Linked DNA regions of Homo sapiens: region 1 is linked to region 2. The links come from fine-mapping of genetic effects on gene expression. A gene starts in region 2. The other region holds a variant in brackets. All regions are shown on one strand. Distances are between the middles of the regions. Region 1 overlaps LOC100506124 (a long non-coding RNA gene). Region 2 holds the start of TTC21B (tetratricopeptide repeat domain 21B).

The links. PIP is the estimated chance that this variant, and not a neighbour inherited with it, causes the effect.
Region 1: its variant is fine-mapped to the expression of TTC21B in whole blood (TOPMed, PIP 0.96).

The regions. Positions count from the first base shown.
Region 1 is chr2:165,852,760-165,861,096 of GRCh38, reverse strand. It overlaps LOC100506124 (a long non-coding RNA gene), which reads left to right. Exons shown (of 4, transcript NR_045375.2): 3 at 2,693-2,882; 4 at 3,483-3,622. Among named protein-coding and RNA genes, the nearest start is that of GALNT3, 63 kb to the right of the region's middle. RefSeq lists an enhancer at 6,701-7,202. The variant C/T (reference allele first, on the strand shown) is at 3,512.
Region 2 is chr2:165,949,289-165,957,625 of GRCh38, reverse strand. It overlaps TTC21B (tetratricopeptide repeat domain 21B), which reads left to right and starts at 3,850. Exons shown (of 29, transcript NM_024753.5): 1 at 3,850-3,941; 2 at 7,902-8,031; 3 at 8,122-8,232. The coding sequence starts at 3,921. It overlaps LOC102724058 (a long non-coding RNA gene), which reads right to left and starts at 208. Exons shown (of 4, transcript NR_110598.1): 1 at 34-208. RefSeq lists an enhancer at 3,086-3,835 and a silencer at 3,600-3,999.

The sequences.
Region 1 (8,337 bases), 97 kb after region 2:
TGTCAGTAGTCTTCAAGGTAGCCCCTCCCATCACAGGCCTGGAAGCCTAGGAGGGAAAAATGGTTTCATTGGCTGGGCCCAGTGTCCCTCTGCTGTGTGCAGTCTAAGGACTTAGCGCCCTGTGTCCCAGCCACTCCAGCCATGACTACAAGGGGCCAAGCTAGAGCTCAGGTTGTGGCTTCAGAGGGTGCAAGCTCCAAGCCTTGGCAGCTTTCACGTGGTGTTGAGCCTGTGAGGGCACAGAAGTCAAGAATTGGGATTTGGGAACCTCCACCTAGATTTCAGAGGATGTATGGAAATGCCTGGATGTCCAGGAAGAAGTTTTGCTTCAGGGACAAACCTCACGGAGAACCTCTGCTAGGGTAGTGTGGAAGGCAAATGTGAGGTAGAAGCCCCCACACAGAGTCCCCACTAGGGTGCTGCCTAGTGGAGCTGTGAGAAAAGGGTCTCTATCTTCCAGACCCCAGAATGGAAGATCCACTGACAGCTTGCACTGTGCACCTGAAAAAGTCACAGGCACTCGTTGCCAGCCCATGAAAGCAGCCAGAAAGGAGGCTGTACCCTGCAAAGCCACACTGGCAGAGCTGCCCAAGACCATGGGAACCCATTTCTTGCATCAGCATAACCTGGATGTGAGATAAGGAGTCAAAGCAGATTATTTTGGAGCTTTAAGATTTAACTGCCCTGCTGGATTTTGGACTTGCATGGGGCCTGTAGCTCCTTCGTTTTACCCAATTTCTCCCATTTGGAATGGCTGTATTTACCCAATGCCTGTATCTCCATTGTATCTAGCAAGCAAGTAACTTGCTCTCAATTTTACAGGCTCATAGGCAGAAGGGACTTGCCTTGTCTCAGGTGAGACTTTGGACTGTAGACTTTTAAAAGAGTTAGTGCTGAAATGAGTTAAGACTTTGGGGGACTGTTGGGAAGGCATGATTGGTTTTGACATGTAAGGACATGAGATTTAGGAGGGGCAAGGGGCAGAGTGATATGGTTTGGCTGTGTCCCCACCCAAATATCATCTTGAATTCCCACGTGTTGTGGGAGGGACCCCATGGGAGGTAATTGAATCATGGGGGCAGGTGTTTTCCATGCTGTTCTCATGATAGTGAATACCTCTTACAAGATCTGATGGTTTTATAAGGGGGAGTTTCCCTGTGCAAGCTCTGTTTGCCTGCTGCCATCCATGTAAGACATGACTTGCTCCTCCTTAGCTTCCACCATGATTTTGAGGCCTCCCCAGCCATGTGGAACTGTGAGTCCATGAAACCTCTTTTTCTTTATAAATTATCCAATCTTGGGTATCTTTATTAGCAGCATGAAAATGGGCTAATACACTAGTTCTCACTTCTCACAGACGTTTCACTACTCCCATGTTGTAAGTTTGGCCACATGCAGAGAATGATGTGTAGTTTCTTAGTCCCCAACTCCCACCACCAATATGGCCAGGAAGGAGGCCACCAGGTGACACAGGTTACCCAGGCCCACATCTATGGATAAAAAGGTTGCTGGGCAGACAGCCTGAAGGCTCCACTACAACATGTTATCTGATCCTTTTGCACTTCTCCCTCCACAGTATTTAGTCCAATTTTTTTTTTAATTCACTCAAGTGCTAGCTTAGTTGAACACCTACATTTAAAAACCCACAACTTTTAGTTAAACAATGTAGAAAATTACTGGACTTTCACTGATAAAGAAATTTGCAACATGGTAAATTATTTGTTCAAAATCATAATTCTCCCATCTGTTTTATTTCTCCAAATGTCCAAGCAACCCAAACCAGGACAGTACCAAGGGCTGTACCACCCTAGTGGTACAACCACTAGATATCACCATGACTAAACTAAGAGTTCAGTCGGAACTGTGCTGCTGAGAGTATCAATGAGTTGACAGCTGCCCAGGCTTGCACTTTTCCAAATCACGGAAGAAGGAGCCATAAAGAGCCAGGCTCATCAAAATTGAGTATAAGCAATTCTCAAAGACCATGTTGATAAACAACAAGACCCTTGACCTTTATATTCCTTCTTTATGTGCTAGGTGGCCCTTATATTTACACATTTTTAAATTATTATATAAAAAGAGCCATTAACCATGGTCCCAGCTCATGTAAAAGATGGAGAGATGCTGGGAAGGTATCAAATCAGTTTGGCTCCAGTTAGCCCCAAGGATTTTTCATTAGGCCACGCTACTAAGTCTCTCTGACTTTAATCCCATTTTCTTGGGCTCACATATATCCTGGGGCATTGTGAGGTAAGAATAAGTCAGTCAGGAATCAAACAAAATTCAAAGAAATGGATAGGCATCATGATATGGTTTGGCTCTGTGTCCCCACCCAAATCTCATCTCAAATTATAATCCCCACATATCAAGGGAGGGACCTGTTGGGAGGTGATTGAATCATGGGGTGGTTTCTCCCAGGCTGTTCTTGTGATAGTGAGGGAGTTCTCACAATATCTGGTTGTTTGATAAGTGTCTGGCATTTCCCCTGCTTTCTTGCTGTCTCTCCTGCTGCCTTGTGAAGGAGGTAGCTTGCTTACCCTTTGCCTTCCACCATTATTGTAAATTTTGAAGGCCCCCTGGCCATGTAGAACTTTCAGTGAATTAAACCTCTTTTCACTATAAATTACCCAGTCTTTGGTATCTTTATAGCGATGTTATAACAGACTAATATTAATACATATCACTTCTTTAGGGAAGGCAGTAAACAAGATGCTAACTGATGGAGTGAAATCCCCAGGAGATGCAGAAGGCAAGTGCAGCTAACTGAGGCCTCAGGGGCAGGAGATGCCCATCAGGATGAGAGCTATGTCTTTCTCCAGTGATGACTCTGCTTCTATGAGGTCACCAGCAGTAGAACCATATCTTGCTGGCATACACTTGGGGTAAGAATATCATTGGCAAAGTTGCTTAAGATCCGATCTGCTTAACTATAACTACCTCCCCCTTCCCTGTTTCCTTCATCTTCCTACTCATATACACATGATACTTTCCTCTCCCTTTTTCTAGTTCATCCCCCTGGGAGAACCACTTTCTTGCCTAGAGTGAAACTCTACTCTCTTGTTTATGTTCAACATATTTTGTTGATGCTCCAAATTCTCTTGTTCTGGCTTCTCTCCAAGGCATTTTGTCCTTTTCCTTACAACTAATGTAAAAAAGAAGAAATATCCTTGAACTTCAAACTTTTTTATAATAAACCTTAGTGATCCATCAGACCCAAATGTCTAATCAACAAAAAGAATTTAAAAACATTAACTTTTGCTCAAATACAAGAAGAGCTTAAACTCCAGACTCTTCTAGCACAGCAAGGAAAGAGAAACAACAGTACAGCTAGTTCCATATTAAAAAAATAGGAATGTTCATCTCCTTCCATAATTCAAAAAATACTACCGGAGAATCAGAAAAGTAAAAATTGTGCTTGTATAAAGAGTTCCTGGATTGTACTGGCTTCCTATATCAATCATTTCTCTCCTGCTTTCCTGTAGATGGCCCCGCCTCCTGGACTTCCATCTGT[C/T]ATCAGGAGAACATAACCATCTGGAGTCAGTACAGATCATCAATCCTTCCACATATACAAGTTCATTTTAAATTTTTAAAAATATAATACAACTGAGAAGTCTTCATTAAATTGTTCTGGTGGTCCTACCTGTTTTCTGTTAGGGATCCAATACATCTCAGAGCCACATGGGTGATGCCATAATGCCAGGGCTGAAACACTGCTTTAGGGGTCTTTTACTTTCCTATTGCTGCTATAAAAAATTACCACAAACCTTGAGGCTTCAAACATCACAAATTTATTTTCTTACACTTCTGGAGGTCAGATGTTCAAAATGGGTCTTAGAGCTAAGACCAAGGGGCAACAGAGCTCCCTTCCTTCTGCAAGCTGTAGGGAAGGCTCTGTTCCTTGACTTTTCTGGCTTCTAAGGCCTGCCTGCATTCTTTGTCTCATGATCACATCACTGTGACCTCTACTTCTGTCATCATGTTTCCTTCTCTAACTTTCCTGCCTCCCTCTCTCCCTAATAAGGACCCTTGTGATTATATTTGGGCCTACATGGATAATGCAGCATATGCTCAAGATCCCTAACTTAATCACATCTGCAAAGTTCCTTTTGCCATGTAAGTTAACACATTCACAGGTTTTAGGGATTAGGATGTGGACATCTTCAGTGGGGATGCGGGCATTATTCTGCTGACTACAGGGTCTGATATAATCGGAGGCCCACTTCCTAGAAATCAGAGAACCTGATTTCTAGTCTGCAATTAGGAAATTCAATTAGGAGAGTGCATAGGGATTGCTGGTATCTCTGTTTTACCTTTGACTTATTAGACTGTAGCCACAAATTCTGGCCCCAGCCTATAGAATGTTATAATGAGAAGCACTGGCTTTAAAGTCATACTAACTTGACTGGGATTTGTTTTTTGTTTGTTTGTTTGTTTGTTTTAGACAGGGTCTTGCTCTGTCACCCAGGGTGGGGTGCAGTGGCGTGATCATGGCTCACTGCAGCCTCGACCTCCCAGGCTCAAGTGATCCCCATACCTCAGCCCCACAAGTAGCTGGGACTACAGGCGTGCACCCACCACACCCAGCTAATTTTTTTATTGCTTGAAGAGATAGAGTCTCACTATGTTGCCCAGGCTGATCTTGAACTCCTGGGCTCCAACAGTCCTCCCATCTCAGCCTCCCAGTTCTCGGATTACCCTCATGAGCCACTGTGCCTGGTCTCACCTGGGTTTTCATCTCATAGGAGCTCTGAGAGCTTGGGCAAGTTCCTCACCTTCTGTGAACTTCAGTTTTCACCTCTCTTCTCTGGGGAGGTCTTAGAGGAAAGAGACTCAGAGACTCACCTGCAGGATACTCTTAGGAATAATGCTGGTAAGGGAGGGAGAAAAGCAGGATTGGACTGCAATGAAGTCACAAGGAAGGCTTCAGCTGATCCCCAAGGGACTGTGTTGATGGGATGGCCTCCCATGGCCTCCCTTTAAGGCAAAGGAGACAGACATTGGTTTCCCCTGAGTCAATCTGCCAGGATTGGGACTACATAAGAAGAGTGAGATGCTTGCCTTGAGGACAAAATTTAGAGGGCGTCAAAAAGCTCAGTAGCCAAGATAAATAATATTTTAATGTATTATTATTTTTTAAACCTAAATTAATGCAAAAGTCAGCCTTTATTTAAAAATTTCAGTATTTTGTTCAGGGTGAACTTTTGCATTGGTTAGTATTTTTTAAATAATGCTTTAAAATAGAGAGTGTTTTGGGGAGCCATATTGGAGCCTCAAGCAAAGAGAAAAATCAGTCATATTGATTATATCTTTATTTAAAATTGTGATATTTTGATAATTACAGAACCTTTGCATTTTTTATTTTTAAAATATTACATTAAAATATTGTTTGATTACTGAGTTTTTGGCTCCTGCTTAAATTTAGCACTCAAGGCCAGTTTTTCACCCTAGTCCTGGTCCTGCATTGTACACAGGCTGCCCCACTCTCTCTTCAGGAGGAAATATAGTCTTAATCCAAGGCCAGTGCTTGGAGAGGGGTTTAGCTATGAGCCATTAGCAGCCAATACTCCTGGCATCTGGGGAAATGAGTGCCTTGATTTTGAATAGGGGCATGGTGCCTACCATAGTATCCACTGTGATACTGTGATGTCGACATATAATAAGATTGTTTTGTCATATAGTCATTCACTCATTGGGATAGTAAGATTGTCATGAAGGACATAAAGACTTATGTGAGAGGAACTTCAAGAAGCCTGACTGGAGGCATCTGACACTTACCTCCTCCACAGACAAGAACCAAAATAGCAAGTGCATAATCAAACTTCGAATAGAGCATCTAAGAGAGAATATTGGAATTCAACAGAGAAGGAACAGGAAGCACCTGAGGCATGGAAGGAGCAGGAAGGGAGGCAGTCAGCTCAGCTGGGATCAGCTGGGAGCTCATAAAGACTCCCTAGTTCAGGAAAAGGGTAAGCAGTAGATACCCACCTTTCCATATTCCCACCATGGACTCCTGATACCCTAGCCATGGGAGACCCCATCACAGGCTCTCAGAATAGCATAGGGACCTGCCTGGAGATGACACAAAGGCATTGCTCTAGAGTGGGAGTTCATAATGGTCCAACGCACCCACCAAGTCCTAAGCAGATTCACCATAGGGCCATTTTGAGAGCTTAGGACCCACTGGAGGTTGCATCCCGCCTTGGGGCCCAAGAGCCCCTGCACCTTCACGTCCCTGGAGCCCCACTGACACCATTCTGTGTCCACCCAGAGAGCCGTAGCAGCAATAACACCAGTCAGACTCAGCAGAATGGCAGGGTCCCCAGCACTCCAGCACACACAGTGCCCTGTATGCCAGGTAAACGGTGGTGCAGCACCCTAGGGAGGCTCTCCCAGGACAAAGAAAGCCAAAGCACATACTCTCTATGGCCAGAGAACCACCTACCTGGGACAGCTACCACATATAATGACCCTGCCCCCAGCAGCAGGGCTACTGCAATCACACTCTGAGGACAGACCCTCTCATCACCAGCCACAGCCACTATTGCTGCCACCAGAAGCCAAAACACATGTAGCTGGTCACGACTCCATCTACCAAGCAGCAGGGCTCCCATCACGCATTTGCACATTTCCTGAGAACTAGTTTTCCCTGCTGCTACTACAGCTGATATACCACTGCCACTGCCACTGGGGATTAAAGCATCCCTCCTCCCACACAGCCTAAGAACTGCCTGCCTGTGGCTATAGTTACTGTCAGAAACTCTGCCTCTACTCCAACAGCAGGACTGCAGCATACTTGGACATACCCTAATGGCAGGCTTTCCCTGCCTACCACCCCTGTTGTAGCAGACTCCCAAGCTCTCTACTGGGAGCCTGAGTGTCACTCCTCTCTGCCCACCATAGCCAGGGCCTGATTACATTCCTGGGGTCCCTGGAAACAGGCCTACCTGGCCTGGCACTCCCCCCACTCCAGTGCCCTAGAACACTGTCTAAGGGCTTGTCTCACCCTGTCCACCACCACTGGCATCTGTGCAGTCCTCCTAGGGCTGCTACCACCACAGCAGCACCCACTGCACATACTGCCTAGGGAATGAGGGACTGACATACCCAGCTCCTTGTAGATATCACTAACACCAATGTGTGTCACTTCAGAGCCCAAGGATTGTCTTGCCATTACTACTGCCATCACCCACATCACACATGCTATCCAGGGACCAAGGACCCACTCGACTGACTGACCCACCACTACCACTGCAGCACTTCAGCCATCTGTAGACCTAAGTATTGGCCTGTTTCAACCCACTAACACTGGTGACTTCATACGCCAACTGGGAACCCGAGGCCAGGCATGCTTGGTCTACTGCTGCCGCGACTGGAATCTGATGACTGGCCTACCTGTAATCCTCATCCTCAACAAAACCTCACCATAGCCTCCACTAACAACAACAACCTAAGCCACTTAGGAAATCACAGACACAGCTGATGCTGTTTACAGCTGAATAAATCATATGGAGACTACACTACTGCATGCACCCAGAATCAAAGCTAGTGTCCTACCCAACCAACAGCATAGATGTATCTTCAGGAAAAATCCCTTCCCTTGTAAAAGTCAATTCAAAAAAAAATTGGAAGAAGTGACTGTTACACCGGAGGTACAGTTATCAACGTAAAAACACAAGAAACCAATCCAGGCAACATAGCAAACCTTGTCTGTGCTAAAAATAAAAATAAAATGTTAGCCAGGAATGGCAGCACACTGCAGGCTATAGTCCTAAATACTTAGCAGGTTGAGGCAGGCTTGAGAGTAGGAACTTGAGTTCATAGTGAGCTATGATTGATAACACTGAAAATAATTGAAAGAAATCAGAAAAACAATTCAGGATGTGAGTGAGAAATTCACCAGAGATAGATATAATAAAAAAGAACAAACCAGAAGTCCTGGAAAGAAAGAATTCAATGAATGAAATTTTAAAAATTCATACAAGAGCTTCAACAATAGATCAAACAAAAGCAAAAATCTCAGAACCTGAAGACAAGTCTTTTGAAATTGCCCAGTCAGATTTTTTGAAAAGAAGAAAAGAGAATAAAAAAGAATGAACAAATCCTGTGACATAAGAACACAACACAACTAAATACATGAATTTTGGGTGTTCCAGAAGGTGAAGAGACCAAATCCATAGAAAACCTATTTAACAAAATAATAGCTGAAAACTTCCCAAGTCTAGCAAGAGATTTAGACATATAGATATGGGACGTTTATAATCCCTAAATAGATATAAGTCAAAAAAGTTATTCTCCAAGGCATATTAAGGTAAAAGTCAAAACCAAAGAGCATTATAA
Region 2 (8,337 bases):
AATGAGAGGTGACAACCTGCTAGCAGCACTCACTCGCTCTTGGCGTCTCCTCGGCCTCGGTGTCCACTCTGGCAGTGCTTGAGGAGCCCTTCAGCCCGCCGCTGCACTGTGGGAGCCTGTCTCTGGGCTGGCCAAGGCCGGAGCCGGCTCCCTCTGCTTGCGGGGAGGTGTGGAGGGAGAGGCGCGGGCGGGAACCGCGGCTGCGGTTGGCGCTGGCGGGCCCGCGCGAGTTCCAGGTGGGCGCGGGCTCCGCCCGCCCCGCACTTGGAGCGGCGGGTCGGCACCGCTGGCCCGAGGCAGTGAGGGGCTTAGCACCCGAGCCAGCAGCTGCGGAGAGTGCACCGGGTCCCCCAGCACTGCCAGCCTGCCCCTGCGGCGCTCGAATTCTCACGGGGCCTCAGCCGCCTCCCGCGCGGCAGGGCTCGGGACCTGCAGCCCGTCATGCCATGCGCGAGCCCTCCCCTCTCCCGGTGGACTCGTGCCCAGCCCGAGCCTCCTCGAAGGGCGCCGCCCCCTGCTCCACGGCGCCCGGTCCCATCCACTGCCCAAAGGCTGAGGAGTGCGGGCGCGTGGCGCGGGACTGGTGGGCAGCTCCGCTGCAGTCTCGGCGGGCCGGGAACCGCTAGGTGAAGCCAGCTGGGCTCCTGAGTCAGGTGGGGACTTGGAGAACTTTTATGTCTAGCTAAAGGTTTGTAAATGCACCAGTCAGCACTCTGTGTCTAGCTGAAGGTTTGTAAACGCACCAGTCAGCACCCTGTGTCTTGCTCAAGGTTTGTAAAGGTACCAATCAGTGCTCTGTGTCTAGCTAATCTGGTGGGGACTTGAAGAACTTTTGTGTCTAGCTAAAGGATTGTAAATTTACCAGTCAGCACTCTGTGTCTAGCTCAAGGTTTGTAAACACACCAATCAGCATCCTGTCAAAACGGACCAATCAGCTCTCTGTAAAACAGCCCAATTAGCTCTCTGTAAAGCAGACCAATCAGTAGGATGTGGGTGGGGCCGGATAAGGGAATAAATGCAGGCCACCTGAGCTAGCAGGGGCACTCTACTGGGGTCCTCTTCCACTCTGTGGAAGGTTTGTTCTTTTGCTGTTTGCAATAAATCTTGTTGCTGCTCACTCTTTGGGTCTGCGTGCGTTTATGAACTGTAACACTCACCGCGAGGGTCCGCGGCTTTATTCTTGAAGTCAGCAAGACCAAGAACCCACCAATTCCGGACACATTAAGGTCTGAACGAAAATGACGTATTTCTGGAGACGAAGATGTTAACTGCTACATTATATTATCTAGCTTTATAGTGCTCATCATCTGGTAGAGAACATTAAACAAAAATGCACTATAACTAGTAATACAAGGACTATGCAAGTGTAATAAGTCTTATAGAGCAGGGGTCCCCAATCTGAGGACTGCAAATCAGTGCTACACAGCAGGATGGGGTATACAGCAGGACGGGGTACACAGCAGGAGGTGAGCTGCGGGGCAGGAAAGGGAGCGTTACCCCAAGCTCCACCTCCTTGTCAGATCAGCGAGGCATTAGATTCTCATACGAATGCAAACCCCATTATAAACTGTGCATGTGAAGGATCTAGGCTGTATGCTCCTTAGATAAGAATCTGATGATCTGAGATGGAATAGTTTCAACCCGAAACCATCTCCCCTACCCCTGTCCATGGAAAATTTATCTTCTGTGAATTGTCTTCCACCAAACTGGTCCCTGGTGCCAAAATGATTGGGGACCACTGCTATAGAGCACTACGTGTTTAATGGAAACTATTGGTTATACAATGCCTATTATGTGTCAGGAAGTTTTAATATGTCTGTAAGGCATTTAGTTTCTTTAGTAAATAAGGAAAATGAGGCTTAGGGAAATTACTTCCCCAAGTCACAAAAGTAGCTAGCGTAATAGGAGCTCCACCTCAGATGCAGAAGAGGGTATTCTTGCCACTACACTGTGATATTTTTATACCCATCCAGTTATGGTGATCCTTAAAGACTTCATGAAATTTGAAATGAACTCAGAAGAAGGAGATTTTCTCAGGTGAAGAAAGAGCTCAAAACAAAGTAGGGGAAAGCATTACCAGAAGAAGGAATATTTGTCCCACTGAGCGGAATAAAGGCTCCTTGAAGGGGAGGTAGAAGATAAGGCTTGAAAAGACGATGAGGTGAAGGGTCATGGATATCAGACTCAAAAGTTTGTAGCTAGTAAAAGTGAGCCGATAAAAATGTTACTGCTAAGGAACACATCGATTTTTCAGGAAAGACAAGAGTTTTTCCTGGCCTGAGATCCAAAATAAATTTCTTACATGAGATCTAGTAAGGGCACAGGGCACACCAAGTCACCGTGAGTGTCAAAGCAAATCTCAGAGTACTTTTAATCCAACAAACATTTATGAAACATCAGGCTTGGTGTTTTGTGCTAAATAATTCAACCTTAGAACAGAATTCAGTGAAGAGAATACGAGGCTAAATTAATATGACTTTCAAGATCTCCAAAAGGTAGGTTGATCATCTGTTCTGTTAACCATGATCCTGAGATATTTCCTTACAGATGAACTTTTCTCTTATAACCAAAGGTTTACAGTTCAAGATTATACACTTCATTGAGCACCCTGGTCCTGTGGTATTCTTTGCTGTATACCAAGTGCGGATTAATCCGCAGCTTTGAAAATCAAAGAGATATCACCAGTTGTTCATCACCACAGACATTTAGCTGGACTATAAATATTGGAAAGAAAAAAAAGTTGCTCGTGAAAATACGTGGTGAATTCCTTTAAAGAGAAACCGGTGAGAAATATTGCTTCACCTTAAAGCCTAGGATGGTAGCTACCGTTTTTCTCAAGACTGTCCTTACATAACCTATTGGCATGGGGAAAAAGTCAATGTTTATAAACTCCTTAAGAAACTTAAAATCTGGAAAAGGCAACTACGTATCATGTCAACTAAAGTAAGATAATTAACACTAGGATCAAAATTTGGAATCCACGTGAAAGATTCTGCAAAGATCACTTAAATCTCAGACCTTATGCACTATTTTAAATATTTATTTAAGCAGAAATAGAAAATCTTAGTCTATTATATTTCCATTTAATTTCCTGGACTTAAGAAATCTATGTGTGACTGATTGAGTTGCCTAATGGGGTGCAAACATAAAAATTTGCATTGGGATTCATTTTATTCTCAGTTTAAAATCAGTAGTATCATTGAAAACAAGACACTAATTTTCTGGAAGTTTAATTTATTTGTCCCTCTTATTATCGGGGCTGGTAAAAAAGGGCTAATTGAACACACATTCTAACAAAGATTGCAGCAACGCCTGCAAAGACGGGCCCAAGCGCACCGTATTTCTGTTAAGAACGTGTGATTTTTTTTTTCTGCGCCACCTTGTGGCCGTAAAACAACTTGCCCACGTGAAAGTTGACCGCTTTTTCCCGCGCCGGCAGAGCCTTGCTGAGAGCCGCACTGCGGGAATCCGCCTCCAGACAAACGTGCAGAAAATGGTGTCTTCCTTTACAACCAGTGACAGGAAACAGACTTCCCCTTCTTCATACTCCGTTTCCTTTATTCCTGAATTCCATTTCCTCGGCCCGCCCACCCACTGTCCTCAGACAGCCGTTTCCCAGTGTGACCTCCTTTTCCAGCTGCACTCTCCGGCGGAGGCCCTTTTCCCAGCCCGGACCCTCCCGGGCGGCCCTCGCAGCCCTCACCTCCGGGTCCCCGCCGCCCCTGCTCCATTACAGCACGATCCCCGCCACACAGGCCCGCCTCTCCCTCCGACAGCCAATCGCGGCGCGACCCCGCCCCTCCCGCTGGGGCCCGGGGCGCTAGAGCGCTCCGGGAGGCTAGGGGAGCTGAATTCTGCGTCTTCCTTTAGGCTGCGGCGAGACAATCCCCAGAGCCCCGCGGCCCGGCCTCGGGGCAGCCATGGACTCGCAGGAATTGAAGGTGAGCGGGTGAGCGGGTGAGCGGGTGAGCGGGCGGGCGGGCGGAGTTCCTTTGCGGCCTTTTGGCCCGGGGGCGCGGAGGGAGCTCGGGTGGCTTCGCTAGGCCGCTGTTTCCCTGCGGTGCCCCGGCTGCTCGGGTTGCGGGGTGGGCCTGCAGCCTCTGCTCACGGCCGGTCTCCGCGGGCCCTGCTGGGGAAGCCCAGGTCTGGGCAGCCCGCCCGCTCGGTGTTTCTGAATTGCTGGTCCCCATGCTGTTGGTTGTGTTTACTTTTGTATCATGTTTACTAGGAAAGCTTGGGTTACCTATGACACTGCGCCTCCGGGTGCGATTTTTAAGGACTTAAGGCAAACTAGTGTCAGCTCCCACACTGGACAGTAAAAAGAGCGCAGAAAGATTATATGAAACCCATTAAAGACGTAAGACTTAAAAGTGGAGGGGTCGTTATTTTAGGGTGATGGTCTTCTCTGTTTATCACTGACTCATTCATTCAGCAAATATTAATGACGGTCAACTTAAGAAAGGCTGATATAAAACAGTTAAAGACATGAGGCTTGAAAATAAAATAACTTTTCGGATGTTGGTCTTCTCTATTCATTTGTTCACTGAATCACTCGTTCAGCAAATATTTATGAAGGGTTACTGTATGTCCATTAGAAGCTGGAGATAGCAGTGAGCAAAACTGAACAGTTTCTGCCTTCTCAGATTTTACAGGCTAATTAATGCTGGGGAAAAACCCTAATTCAGTTGACTCAACAAATATTTACTGAATGCCTCCTATGTGTCTAGCACTGTTCTAAGCACTGAAATAATAAAACCAAGAAAAACTCTTCCAATCTTGGAGCTTACATTTGAGTAGGAGGAGTCAGACAACAAGTAGGTAAATGAAATGTGTATCCTGTGAGATGGTGATAAGTGGATGGAGGACAATTTGGCGATGTAGGAGGTTAGGGAATGCTGAAATGTCTTGTTTTTCTGCCTGAAGTTTTACATTATCCTCTGTTCTAGCTATCCCCCTATATCCTTACATTTTTTTATTCCCTTAAATGTATTATTTGCACTGCCACCCAAATGAACATTTTAATAAAAACACTTTAATGTAAAATGTAAAAATGGGCCTCCTCATTACTTAGACTTGAGGTTCAAGTCCAAGTACTTAATATGAGGCTTTTCACCCCACCTTCGTCTCCAACCTCATCATCCAATACTCTCTGTCTCACTTAAGCCTCCAGAGCAGAGAATAGCAAACTTTCTCAACAAAGGGCCAGATAGTACACATTTTAGACTTTATGGACCGTATGGTCTATCACATCTAATTGGCTTGTTCAAAACAGCCATAGACAATACTTAAATGAGCATGGCTGTGTTTCAATAAAACTTTATTTATGAACACTGAAATTTGACTTTCATGTAATTTTCATGTTATGAAATATTTCTTTTTTTTCCTTGACAGCTGGAAAATATAAAAACCATTCTTAGTTCACTGGCTGTACAGCCAGCCAGCCAGATATGGCCCACAGAGTGTGGTTTGCCAAACCCTGCTCTAGAGTATGGAGTGGCTTTTAGTCATCTTCATCACCACTGCCATCCCAATGTACCATTGATGACTTGTTATCTGTGTTGTTGCAGTTCCTCTTCCTAACTCCTGTACCTTCCTCAAGAATCATGAAAAGGAAATAGGAAGAGCGTGTACGTGTGTGGAGGGAGAATGAGGGGTTTGCAATTCAAGAGTCAGCTCTGAAATCCTCCCCAATAATCTTTCCCTTGATTTTAGTCATCCATCCTCCCCTCACACCACATTCAGTTTTCAATGCTGTCAAAATGTTGCTATCCCACATTCCCAAAGGAGTTTATAAGCTCTTTTCTTACATTTACTACATTATATTTCAGTTAGTCTTCAGATTACAGTCTCATCTGAAAAATGTAGGTTTTCCGGGGGGACAGGAACCATGTCTTACTCATTTTTCTATTCATAGTAGCTAGCCCAGTGCCTGGGTACTAGTAGGCAGTCAGTAAATGTTTTGGATTGAATAACCTAACCTGAACCAAGGCAGTAGCATTAGGTATGTTTAGTGGGAGGTAGACTGGAGAAATAGAAGAACCTACTAAGTGGTTAGACTTAGAGAGACTGGGCAAATAGGAAGGGAGGATTCATGAGTAGCAGGGTAGCAGGTGGAAAATGGAAATATGAATCTGGAACATAGACAAGAGGTCTTGGCGCAGGACACATTTTTTTTTTATTCCATTAACATATGGGATGCAGAGGAACTTATTTTTTTCAGAATAGAACTCTTATACTATGATATCTTAATTAATTCTCACAGTGACCTGTACATTTGCATTACTAACAGCATTTTATAAATGAGCAGACTGAGGCGTTGTAAGAAGGACCAGAGATTCTTTTTGCCTTTAAATTCGCGTCCTTTTTATGGTGCTATGCCACTGCCTTTCAGGAGGATTATAGATGCTTAGTGATAGTGTGCAGAAGTCAAGTAAGGTATTAAACGTGTCCTTAGTTGTGGCAAAGTAAGAAGTCATTCTGCAACTTTAGGGAATGGAGCATTGGAGGAAAACTGTGTTTCACTGAAATGTGTTGTGGGGGTCTGGAGATGGGGTATGGAGCACACTTTTAAGAAACATGGCTAAAAAGGAGGTTAGGGAGCAGTGATCACAAGGAGGGAGGCAGAGTAAAATTACAGAGAACAGTCGCCTAACTGATCTAGAGAAGTACATGGACTATAGCCCTCCAGAAGCAAGAGACTATATAAAACAGAGCTGTCGGACGGGCGTGGTGGCTCACGCCTGTAATCTCAGCACTTTGGGAGGCCCAGGCGGGTGGATCACTTGAAGTCAAGAGTTCAAGACCAGCCTGGCCAACATGGGGAGCCCCATCTCTACTTAAAAATACAAAAATTAGCCAGGTGCGGTGGGGTGTGCCTATAGTCCCAGATCAGGAGGCTGAGGCAGGAGAATCGCTTAAACCTAGGGGGCAGAGATTGCAGTGAGCAGAGATTGCGCCACTGCACTCCAGCCTGAGTGACAGAATCTCCAAAACAAAACAAAACAAACAAACCAGAGCTGTCTAGATACCCTTAGATTTCAATCCTGTCACTTAGTCACCTGTATTTCTCACTGCTACTGAACAAGCTGTAGAGTCCAGGTAGGTAGGTATGGGGTGGCCCAAACTGCTTTCTGGTGAATCAGGTGTATCCTAGTGATGGTGGGAAAGTGTGGTTTCTGTCTTTGATGAGGTTAGCAACCAAGCCTTAGACATAATCGTAGGAAAAATGGTAGACAGCACAGGCCCATTTTTATTCAGAAGTTAGTAGGTCCTGATAGTAGTTTTGTCTTGTATATGGAAATAATATAACTTTGGAAAAAGCTTAAAGACAACGATTTTCATTGAAAAATAGTTTATTTATTCTTAACTGACAATTTATTTGTCGCAGAACTCAAAGCCGAGTAAGATAACATTTGATGATATGTTGAAGAATTAAATTTGTCATTACTTTGTAATGCTGTAATAAAATACTGGATATTTTAAAAAGAAGATTTTTTTTTTTAAAGAAACCTATGGTCTGGCAATGGAAGCCTCTTGTCTTTTTTTTTTTTTTTTTAGTTCCTGTTTATTGTCTGCCTTTCTGTTTTCTAAAACGTTCAAGAAAATGTGGGCAAAGGAAAAAAGGTGAAAGCAGCCTCATTTCGGTGCTGTTAACAAAAACTTAGGAAAAATAATTTAAATTATTAGAAAACATTGAATTATTTCAGTAATTTTATGATCATTCAGTTCTGCAATCCTTAGCATTGAGTTCTAGCCATTAATAGTATTTTAAGAAACTTGGAAGAAAAAAGTCACATTGCCTGAATTTTACATTATTCTAGATGTTAGATTATTATCTGCTTCTTAGAGTATTTCAGAGCACCAGAATTCCTTTATAACATTTTTTCATTATTTCCATTTAGACTTTGATTAATTACTATTGTCAAGAGAGATATTTCCATCATGTATTACTGGTTGCCAGTGAAGGAATTAAGAGGTATGGAAGTGATCCAGTCTTCAGGTTTTATCATGCCTATGGCACATTAATGGAAGGTACGTGTTAATCATTAAACATGTTCCATCAGTTTTAAATTCTTGCTTTGCACTAAGAACAGTTTTTCATATCATAATCTTGATTTTCAGGTAAAACTCAAGAAGCTCTTCGAGAATTTGAGGCTATTAAAAATAAACAAGATGTATCACTTTGTTCTCTACTTGCACTGATATATGCCCATAAAATGAGTCCTAATCCAGGTATGATATTTAAATGCAATGCTTAGGACATTTTTTCCTATTCAGTTTATTTTTATTTTTCTCAGTTACCAAGTCATTCAGTCTGATCACACTATATTATGTATT